Homo sapiens: one gene and its partner. The protein of the gene in region 1 purifies or fractionates together with the protein of each later gene. This does not show direct contact. Each region holds a gene or a part of one and is shown on either strand. Other genes may lie near its edges.

The links. Proteins that work in one complex are often made in the same cells at the same time.
Region 2: the proteins of INTS4 (region 1) and ADD2 purify together in Homo sapiens (affinity purification with mass spectrometry; one large-scale study listed by BioGRID and IntAct). This does not show direct contact.

Annotation. Positions count from the first base shown.
Region 1 is NC_000011.10:77,987,746-77,992,701, reverse strand, and holds part of INTS4 (integrator complex subunit 4), read left to right. Parts: intron 1-1,402; coding exon 1,403-1,594; intron 1,595-4,956. UniProt on the Homo sapiens protein: Component of the integrator complex, a multiprotein complex that terminates RNA polymerase II (Pol II) transcription in the promoter-proximal region of genes.
Region 2 is NC_000002.12:70,757,155-70,762,110, forward strand, and holds part of ADD2 (beta-adducin), read right to left. Parts: intron 1-4,956. UniProt on the Homo sapiens protein: Membrane-cytoskeleton-associated protein that promotes the assembly of the spectrin-actin network. Binds to the erythrocyte membrane receptor SLC2A1/GLUT1 and may therefore provide a link between the spectrin cytoskeleton to the plasma membrane.

The DNA of each region.
Region 1 (4,956 bases):
CCAAAGTCCTTATTCTTTTTATCATGTCATACTGTGTTCTTGTCTAGAATAATTCTACTCTCTTTTCTATAGAAATGTGAATTTGTAAGGAGGTGATTGCTCAGTACATAAAAACGCACCATTAGGTGGTAAGGAAATTTATTTTATTTTATTATTATTTTTTAACAGAGACAGGATTTCACCATGTTGCCCAGGCTGGTCTCGAACTCCTGGGCTCAAGGGATCCTCCTGCCTCAGCCTCCCAAAGTGCTAGGATTTCAGGTGTAAGCCACTACGCCCATCGGATATTTGTTTCCTTTTCTTCTGTTTTGAGATGGAGTTTCGCTCTTTTCGCCCAAACTGGTGTGCAGTTGCGCAATCCTAGCTCACTGCAACTTCTGCCTCCTGGGTTCACGCAATCCTCAGCCTCCTGCATAGCTGGGACTGCAGGCATACACCACCACCCCCAGCTAATTTTTGTGTTTTTAGTAGAGATGGGGTTTTGCCATGTTGGCCAGGCTGGTCTTGAACTCCTGGCCTCAAGTGATCCGCCTGCCTAAGCCTCTCAAAGTGCTGGGATTACAGGCATGAGCCACCATGCCATGTCTGATATTTGTTTTCTAATAAAGAATGGACTTTGGGAGACTGAAGCAGAGGGATCACTTGAGGCCAGAAGTTCGAAACCAGCCTGGGTAACATGGCAAAACCTGTCTCTACTAGAAATACAAAAATTAGCCATGTGTGGTGGCACACACCTGTAATTCCAGCTAGTTGGGAGTCAGGGAGGTGAATCGCTTGAACGTAGTAGGTGGAGGTGGCACACACCTATAATCCCAGCATGTTGGGTGTCAGTCAGAGAATCATTTGAACCTAGGAGGTGGAGATTGCAGCAAGCCAAGATTGCACCATTGCACTCCTGCCTGGGCGACAGTGTCTTGCTCTGTCTCAAAAAAATGGAGTAGATCCTTTGTGTGACCTCTAAACCCAAAGGCTACCACAATCCTCAGAGATAGGTAGAGCAAAATGTTAGTGTAAGGCTGGGCACCGTGGCTCATGCTTGTAATCCCAGCACTTTGGGAGGCTGAGGTGCCAGGATTGCTTGAGCCCAGGAGTTAAGACCAGCCTGGGCAACATAGAGAGACTCCATCTCTAAGAAAAAAAAAAAGTATACCTATTTTACAGAGACATAAACTGAGACTCGGAGAAATTAAATGACTTGCCTAAAGTCATAGGAACTGGTAAAGGCAAAATTGAGACTCATGGCCTTGTCACCAACCCGGTACTCTTTCTGGTTTATAATACTGTATTTTCCTAAGTCCATCAGCTAAATATATTATTTGGTATAATGGAAAATCATTTCCACCAAATGAGGCAAAGTTAAATTTGCAGATTCTGTGTTTTCGATTTTCTCTACCCCTTGCAGCCACAGGAGGAAATTGCTACTAAGAAACTCCGACTAACAAAACCAAGTAAATCTGCAGCACTCCACATAGATCTGTGTAAAGCTACCTCCCCAGCAGATGCTTTGCAATACTTGCTCCAGTTTGCCAGGAAGCCTGTCGAGGCGGAAAGCGTAGAGGGAGTAGTCAGGATTCTCTTGGAACATTATTACAAGGTAAGAAAATCTTGAGGATCTGATGGGAGTATATCATGGGAGTTGTATCATGTCTGCAGAATGGTTAATATTACAAATAAATAGGGTATTCATTAGGAAGCTTTTATTGAGTGTCTTCCAAGTGCTAGGTACTATGGATACCGAGATAAAAAAGATACAGATCTTGACCTCAGAAAGTTATACTGTGTATAGTAGATGGAAACAAGACATGTCAATGATAAGGTGCATCATACTGCTGAAGTTACTGTGAGTGCAGTATGTGCAGAGTACAGTGGAAGCACAAAAGAGGAGTAAATATCAATCATGACCCATTCATCTCTGGAATGTGGTCCTGCTGTTCCTTTCCTAATTCATGGCCCTCATATCTAATTGCAGTGGCCCTCTTTTTTAATTAAAAATACATTTTTTTTTTTTTTTTTTTGGAGACAGAGTCTCGCTCTGTTGCCCATGCTGGAGTGCAGTAGTGCAATCTTGGCTCGCTGCAACCTCTGCCTCCTGGGTTCAAGCGATTCTCCTGCCTCAGCCTCCTTAGTAGCTGGGATTACAGGCACGTGCCACCACACCCTGCTAATTTTTGTATTTTTAGTAGAGACGGGGTTTTGCCATGTTGGCCAGGCTGGTCTCGAACTCCTGACTTTAAGTGATGCAGCCACCTTGGCCTCCCAAAGTGTTAGGATTACAGGCGTGAGCCACTGCGTCTGGCCAAAAAAACTGTTTTTGAGACAGAGGCTCACTGTCACCCAGCCTAGAGTTTAGTGGCATCATCATAGGTCACTGTAGCCTGGAACTCCTGGGCTTAAGTGATTCTCCTGGCTCAGCCTTCCACGTAGGTGGGACTGCAGACGTGCCACTACTCCAGGCTAAGTTTTGCATTTTTTTTTTTTTTTTTTTTGAGACTTGGTCTGTCACTCAGCCTGGAGTATAGTGGTGGCACAATCTTGGCTCACTGCAACCTCCGTCTCTTTGGTTTAAGTGATTCTCCTGCGTCAGCCTCCAGAGTGGCTAGGACCGCAGGTGTGTGACACCACACCCAGCTAATTTTTTTTGTATTTTTAGTAGAGGTGGGGTTTTGCTGTGTTGGCCAGGCTGGTCTTGTACTCCTGACCTCAAGTGATCCATGCACCCTGGCCTCCCAAAGTGCTGGGATTGCAAGCGTGAGCTACCATTCCCAGCCCAAAAATCATTATTATTATTACTATTATTATTTTTGAGATGGGGTCTTGCTTTCTCGCCCAGGCGGGAGTGCAGTGGTGCTATCACGGCTCACTGTACCCTCGACCTCCGAGGCTCAATTGATCCTCCTGCCTCAGCCTTCTGAGTAGCTGGGACTACAGGCATGTGCAGCATGCCTGGCTAATTTTTGTATTTTTTTTTTTTTTTTGTAGAGACAGGGCTTTGCTATGTTGCACAGGCTGATCTCGAATTCCTGGGCTCAAGCAATCCACCCTCCTTGGGCTTCCAAATTGCTGAGATTACAGGTGTGAACCACCACACTCAGCCCCCAAATTGTTAAGCTTATGGAAAAGTAGATAAAATACTATAGTGACCTACCAAATATCCATTCCTAGAATTTAACAGTTATTAGTATTTTGCCAAATTTGCTCTATTTTTTCGCTGAATTTTATTTTATTTTGTTATTATTTTTTTTGAGATGAGTCTCACTCTGTTGCCCAGGCTGGAGTGTAATAGCACTCCTGGGTTCAAGCAGTTCTCCTGCCTCAGCCTCCCAAGTAGCTGGGACTACAGGAGTGCGCCATCACGCTCAGCTAATTCTGTATTTTTAGTAGAGATGGGGTTTCACCATGTTGGCCAGGCTAGTCTCGAATTCCAGACCTCGGGTGATCCACCTGCCTCGGCCTCCCAAAGTGCTGGGATTACAGGTGTGAGCCACCGCGCCCAGCCTTGTTTTGTTGAATTTTTAAAAAGATATGTCATTTTTTTCTAATTATTTCATTACATATCTATTAAAAAGGGATACCTTTTTGTTGTTTTCTTTTTTTTTCTCACTGCTATGAGAAAGTAGAGGGACTTTTTATTTTTTAACATAGCCACCTAACCCTAATGAATAAAGTTAAGTAATTCTTTAATGTCATCTAAGAATTAGTTGATATTTAGATTTCTGTAGTTGTTCTCCCAGTACCTTTTTATAGTTGATGTATTCAAATCAAAATGCAAACCAGGTCCCCACATGGCATTCAGTCTTTTCAAAAATCTACAACAGTTACTATTTTGGTGACATTGATTTGATGAAGAAACTGAGACAGTTCTTTTGTAAAATGTCTTGTTTTCTGAATTCATTTACTTCTTTAAGGATTAACTTGTTCCTCTGTTCTCTGTATTTACTATGAACTGAAAGTTAGATCTATAGGCTTTGTTAGATTTAAGTTAAGCATATTTTTGACAATTTTAAGACTATGTTATAAATGGTGACTTGTACTTCATATTGCAGCTATCAGCATGCAAATGTCACCGTTACATTGAGGTCTTCCTTTACCCTTCTGTTTCATATCGAAACTGCCTATCCCCACCCCGCACTTCCTAGTCCCCTTCCTTGATTTTGTTTTCTCCATAGTAATTACCATCTTCTAATATTCTGTATAATTTCTTGTTAATTATGTTCCTTGTCCATTTCCCCATGCAGGAACATAAGCTTCCCTTGAGCAGGGATTTTTATGTTTTTTAATTGTTGTTTCTACAGAATCAAGAACAGTGCCTGGTAAAATAAATATTTGTTGAATGAATAAATGAATTAATTGATGCTTTTGTGATACATTTTACTCAACAAATATATATCAGACTTTGTTCTGGGCACTGGACGGTGTCCATTAGCACAATTGTTAAGTCTTATGCGTTGCAATTGTTTGCCATATGTGTCTATCTCCTTCAGACTTTGAGCTCCGTAAATTCAGAGGCTGCAGATCCATTAGTCTCTATCCCAGTGCCTGGCAGGTTCCTAGGAACATTGAAGGGACATTATAAATGTTTCACTTATGTTTTACGTGAATAAAATCAGGCTTTCTTTTTTTGTTGTTCTTTTCTTTAAAAAATTTTTTAAAAAATCGTATCTATCTATCTAGAGACTGGGTTATGAGACTGGCTAATTTTTATATTTTTGATAGAGATGAGGTTTCACCATGTTACCAAGGTTGGTCTCAAACTCCTGGGCTCAAGCGATTCACCTACCTCAGCCTCCCAAAGTGCTGGGATTACAGGCATGAACCACTGTGCCTGGCATCTTTTTGAGTGTTGCTCTGTTGCCCAATCTAGAGTGCAATGGCGTGATCACTGCCCACTGAAGTCTGGACTCCCAGGCTCAAGCCATCCTCCCACCTCAGCCTCCTGAGGAGCTGGGACCACAGGCA
Region 2 (4,956 bases), on another chromosome or scaffold:
AGTCACTAGACAATGATCACAGTTGATACATTCAGAAACAGCAGTACATGCATATTATTTTGGGATACAGAGGTATCTACAGCAGAACAAAAAAACACAGCTAAAATTGGTTTGCCTGTGGATAAGGGATTTGTGGGGGGGGGGGATTTGTACAGGGATTGTTGCCTTTTATTAGAAGCCCTTCAGTCCTATTTGATTCATTAAGTATGAACAAGTGTTGCCTTAAAAACTAAAAGTTTGGGGACAGGAGACGAATAAAGAAAAATAATGATATATTTTATGAAATAAGAGAGAGGAAGTCTCACACACAGTATGGTGGGAATGAGTGTGGAATGGTTAAGCTGGATACTGCATAACTATGGTAACAGACGTAGCTAATTTAAGACACAAATGAGGGTGTTGGAAAGATTTAAGAGAAATATGGTGTTAAGAGGGAAGGAGAATAAATTCTAAAAAAAGGGATGCTGAGATAATCAGTATGGATGCTCTGCCATCTGACATGAGGAAAGCAGGAAAGAATCAAACCCGCCCTCACTTTTCCTGTCCTGTCTTTTCACGGTAGATTTTTGAAAGTAAACCCCTAGATATTCTTATGGAGACTCCATGCCGAGTAAAGAAAGCAAACATGATAAAATTCATACTCAATAAAATAACACAAGCAGAAAATCACATCCATTGTTAAATGAAATTGTTTCATAAAGCCTCCATGCATTTCAAAGTTTAATAACTTCATTTGTTCTTTGAGAAAAACAATTTAAAAATAACATTCAAATGCCCTTGTATTGATTTTCCCTTCAATAAAATGATTCACAATCAAGCACAAACATTTAACGACCCTTTCAAAATTCCACAGAAAATTACCGAAGGAACGTAAAAATAGGAACAAATCTCCATCACTTCTGGTTACCAGGGAGGCTGCCATTCACGCGGCAGGAACTGTGAGGGATCGACATCTTTATAACATCGGTTCTTCCCATCTGGGAACATGACATTCTGTTTCTTGAGTAAATATTGGTAATGCATATTTTCAGTGGAAATAGTCCATTTCATCAAGATTTTCACAGATGATGGGATACAATAATGCACAATGTTCTTGAGATTTTACATCTTTTCTCCATGCTGCTCCATATGTCATTTCTAGCTTTGTGAATTTTTTTGCCTTTGTATCTTAATTAGGCTTTCTGGAAGTTTGCCTATTTTATTGGCTTTCTAAAAGAACTAACTGGCTGGATAAAAGGTGGGGAGAGGGCATATAAGGAGGTGGAAAGAGTTGTTTTGGAAGGGTTGGGAGGGTGGGAAAGCATGTTCAGAAAAATGGAGTAGTTCAGCCTACCTAGAGGGTAGAGCGTAAAGGAAAAAGAGGAAAAGCAGTTGAGGCAGGTAAGGAGCTTGGGCTTTATCCGGAGGGTAGAGAAATGATGAGATTAGATTTTTGTTTTAAAAAGATCAACTATGCAACATAGTGAGACCTCGTCTCTACCAGAATTTTAAAAAAAATAAGCCAGGCATGTTGGCATACACTGTACTCCCAGCTACTTGGGAGGTTGAGATGGGAGGATTGCTTGAGCCCAGGAGGTTAAGGCTGCAGTGAGCCATGATTGCACTGCTGCACTCCAGCCTGGGCAACAGAGCGAGACCTTGTCTCAGAAAAACAATAATAATAAACTATGGATGGAGGAAGACTGGGCTGGAAGCAGGGAAGAAGGTGGGGGGACTCTAAAGTAATCCAGAGTTTCAGCCAGGGGCAGTGTGGCCATATGAAACAGGAACCCAAGCAAAGTAGCCCAGGCAGAATGGAAGGCAACATCGACATGGAAACCAAAGTCTAGCCTGGACTCATGGAAACTACTAGAATTGTCATCAATTCAGGGAGCCATGGGGATGGGGTGAAGGATGTCAAATGGTCCTTAGAGCTGCTACTGATAGAAGCCACAGGGATTTACTACTTGGCTTAGAAAGTTTTTTTCAGCCACTTCACAGCTGGAAAAAAGGCACAGAGAAAACCATTCCAGGCATTAAATGGAGCACTGAAATTTGTATTCAGGTACCTAGATCCTAAGCTCCCTGGCCTCCAGATCCTGCCCTGGAAGCTTGCAGGATGAGGCCCTATGTTAGATCAAATACATTACAGGTATTTACTGCTGGGTGGAATAGCGTTTATTTACATACTTTTGTATCTTTATTTTTAGCTGCATCTGGTGAAGTGATCAGAATCAACCTTGTTTGAAGCTGGATATATTAAATCCCCACTTTACTGGGAGCTCCCTCAGCACATGTCTGAGGAACTGAGGGTGCTGTGGTTTGGATATTTGATCCCTCCAAAGCCCATGTTGAAGGAGGGGGTACCTGGTGGGAGGTGTTTGGGTCATGGTGGTGGATCCCTCATGAATGGCTTGGAGCCATTCTTGCAGTAGTGAGTGAGTTCTCACTCTTTTCATTCCCATGACAGCTGGTTGTTAAGAAGAGCCTGGCATCTCCTCCCCTCTCTCTTGCTTCCTCTCTTGCCATGTGATCTCTGCACACGCCAGCTCCCCTTTGCTTTCTGTCAGGAGTGGAAGTGGCCTGAGGCTTCCACAAGCTGCCCAGTCTTCCAGCCAGTAGAATCATGAGAAAAGTAAACCTTTTCTCTATAAATTACCCAGCCTTGGATATTCCTTCATAGCAACACAGGCAGACTAAGATGGGGATCTGCCACTCAAGGTGGCAGTGCTGATAGATTTCCCACGGCCCTTAGATTTATATCCCTCATCCCCACCCCACTGACCATACCACAGCCCATCTAGCCCTGTTTCATTGAGCCTGGGGATACTAGCACTCAGCTGAGAGGACACCACTGCTTCTTCCCAGGAAAGCCCCTTGTTGATACTCATGGGCTGGGTGATATTGGCTGGCACCATCTGTACTCTAACTTTTACAGAGTCCTTAAAGAATCTAGGCCCAGTGTTTGTTCTCTTCTCTAAAACTCAAATCGATGTTTTCCTTACTATATTTGTCTTTGGACACTTTGAAGAAAAGAAAGGCAAATATTTAGGTCCATGGTGCCATCTTGAAACCTACACGTGCGTGTTTATAACCCTGAACCTGCAACTCAGATCTCGGGTCCCAGCCATGACACATGCATACGTCTGCCTCTCTGCTGGCCATCCCCACCTCAAACTCGTCTTGTCTAAAACTGACCACTGTCTTACACAAACCACTTCCTTCTTGGCTGTGCTGGATTCCCCAATTTAGAGCACCAAGCAAAGTAGGGCTCCAAATATTCTTGGAATAAATTTGATATATATTTTTTGAAGCATCAAAGTAGTCACCATGGAGATGTTATAACAATGAATAAGATACAAATGGTACAGTTCTAATTTTTTAAAGTTTCAGAGAAACAAGTCTGATGTACTTTGTTTGAGGATGCAAATTTAGATTATAAAATTATAAAAGCAAGCAAGAAAATGGTTACCATAAAAGGAAGGTGAGTTGTTACCTCCAGGGGGAAGCAGGGTGTGGTTCAAGGGTGCACTGGGCTCTGGGAGCTGGCTGTGTCCTGCTTCTTGACCTGCATGGTGGTCACACGGGCATTCACTTTATAATATTTCACTAAACTGCACATTTGTTTCATGTCCTTTCCTATATCTGTGTTATGTTTTATATATTTTAAGGTTTTTTTAAATAAAGTAGTCATTACAAGGGAAAGAAACAAAACTTTTGTGGACTTTCATAGTTATTTTGATAAAGTTGGCCACAACTTATCTTCCATCATACAAAATGCCAGAAGACAAAAGAATAATATTTGGAGTTTTTAGGTAAAAAGATTAAGATGAAGAAGTGTATGCCCCAAAAGGATGATGTTACTGTGAAACAGCAACATAAAGAAGTTCTTAGGCAAGCAAGAACTACCGGAATATACTATCTTTCCTGAAAAAGATTCCAACTAATCAAGGAATAAGTAAAAATGAAGATTGAGCATAGGAAATGGACTGAGTATTGTAACCTATGTAACTCTCAGTCTAGATAGCAGCTGTTAGTATGGTTAGGAAACATAAATGTCAAAAATAATTCTGGAAAGCAAAAGCATGCATTACTTTTTTTTTTTTTTAAAGACAATAATCTGGATCTAAAAGCCAAAATGTTTTTAAGGCAAAAAGTTAGTGGGGGTAGATGGGCAACAAAAAAGAAATTAAAGCTGGGCACAGTGGCTTACACCTGTAATCCCAGCACTTTGGGAGGCCGAGGTGGGTGGATCACCTGAGATCAGGAGTTTGAGACCTGCCTGGCCAACATGGTGAAACCTGGTCTCTACTAAAAATACAAAATTAGCCGGGCGTGGTGGCAGGTGCCTGTAATCCCAGCTACTCAGGAGGCTGAGGCACAAGAATCACTTGAACCCAGGAGACAGAGGTTGCAGTGAGATGAGATTGTACCACTGCACTCCAGCCTGGGTGACAGAAAAAAAAAAAAAAAAAAGGAAGGAAGGAAGGAATTAAAGTATACTAAATCTCTCATTATTTATGAAAGAACAAATAGACACAACTTTTTTTTTTTTTGAGACAGAGTATCGTTCTGTTGCTCAGGCTGGAGTGCAGTGGTGCAATCTCGGCTCACTGCAAGCTCTGCCTCCCGGGTTCATGCCATTCTCCTGCCTCAGCCTCCCGAGTAGCTGGGACTACAGGTGCCCGCCACCACGCCTGGCTAATTTTTTGTATTTTTAGTACAGACGGGGTTTCACCATATTAGCCAGGATGGCCGATCTCCTGACCTCACGATCTACCCGCCCTGGCCTCCTGAAGTGCTGGGATTACAGGCGTGAGCCACCGCGCCTGGCCAACACAACTATATTTTTTAATGTTAATGAAGACTAGTAGAAAAAAATGGGCAGAAAATTTCCCTTTTATCTAAAGAACAAGGGACTCTTACACTACATTTAAGTTAAGAAAGGGGGTGGAAAAATAGCTTGGAATTTTTTTA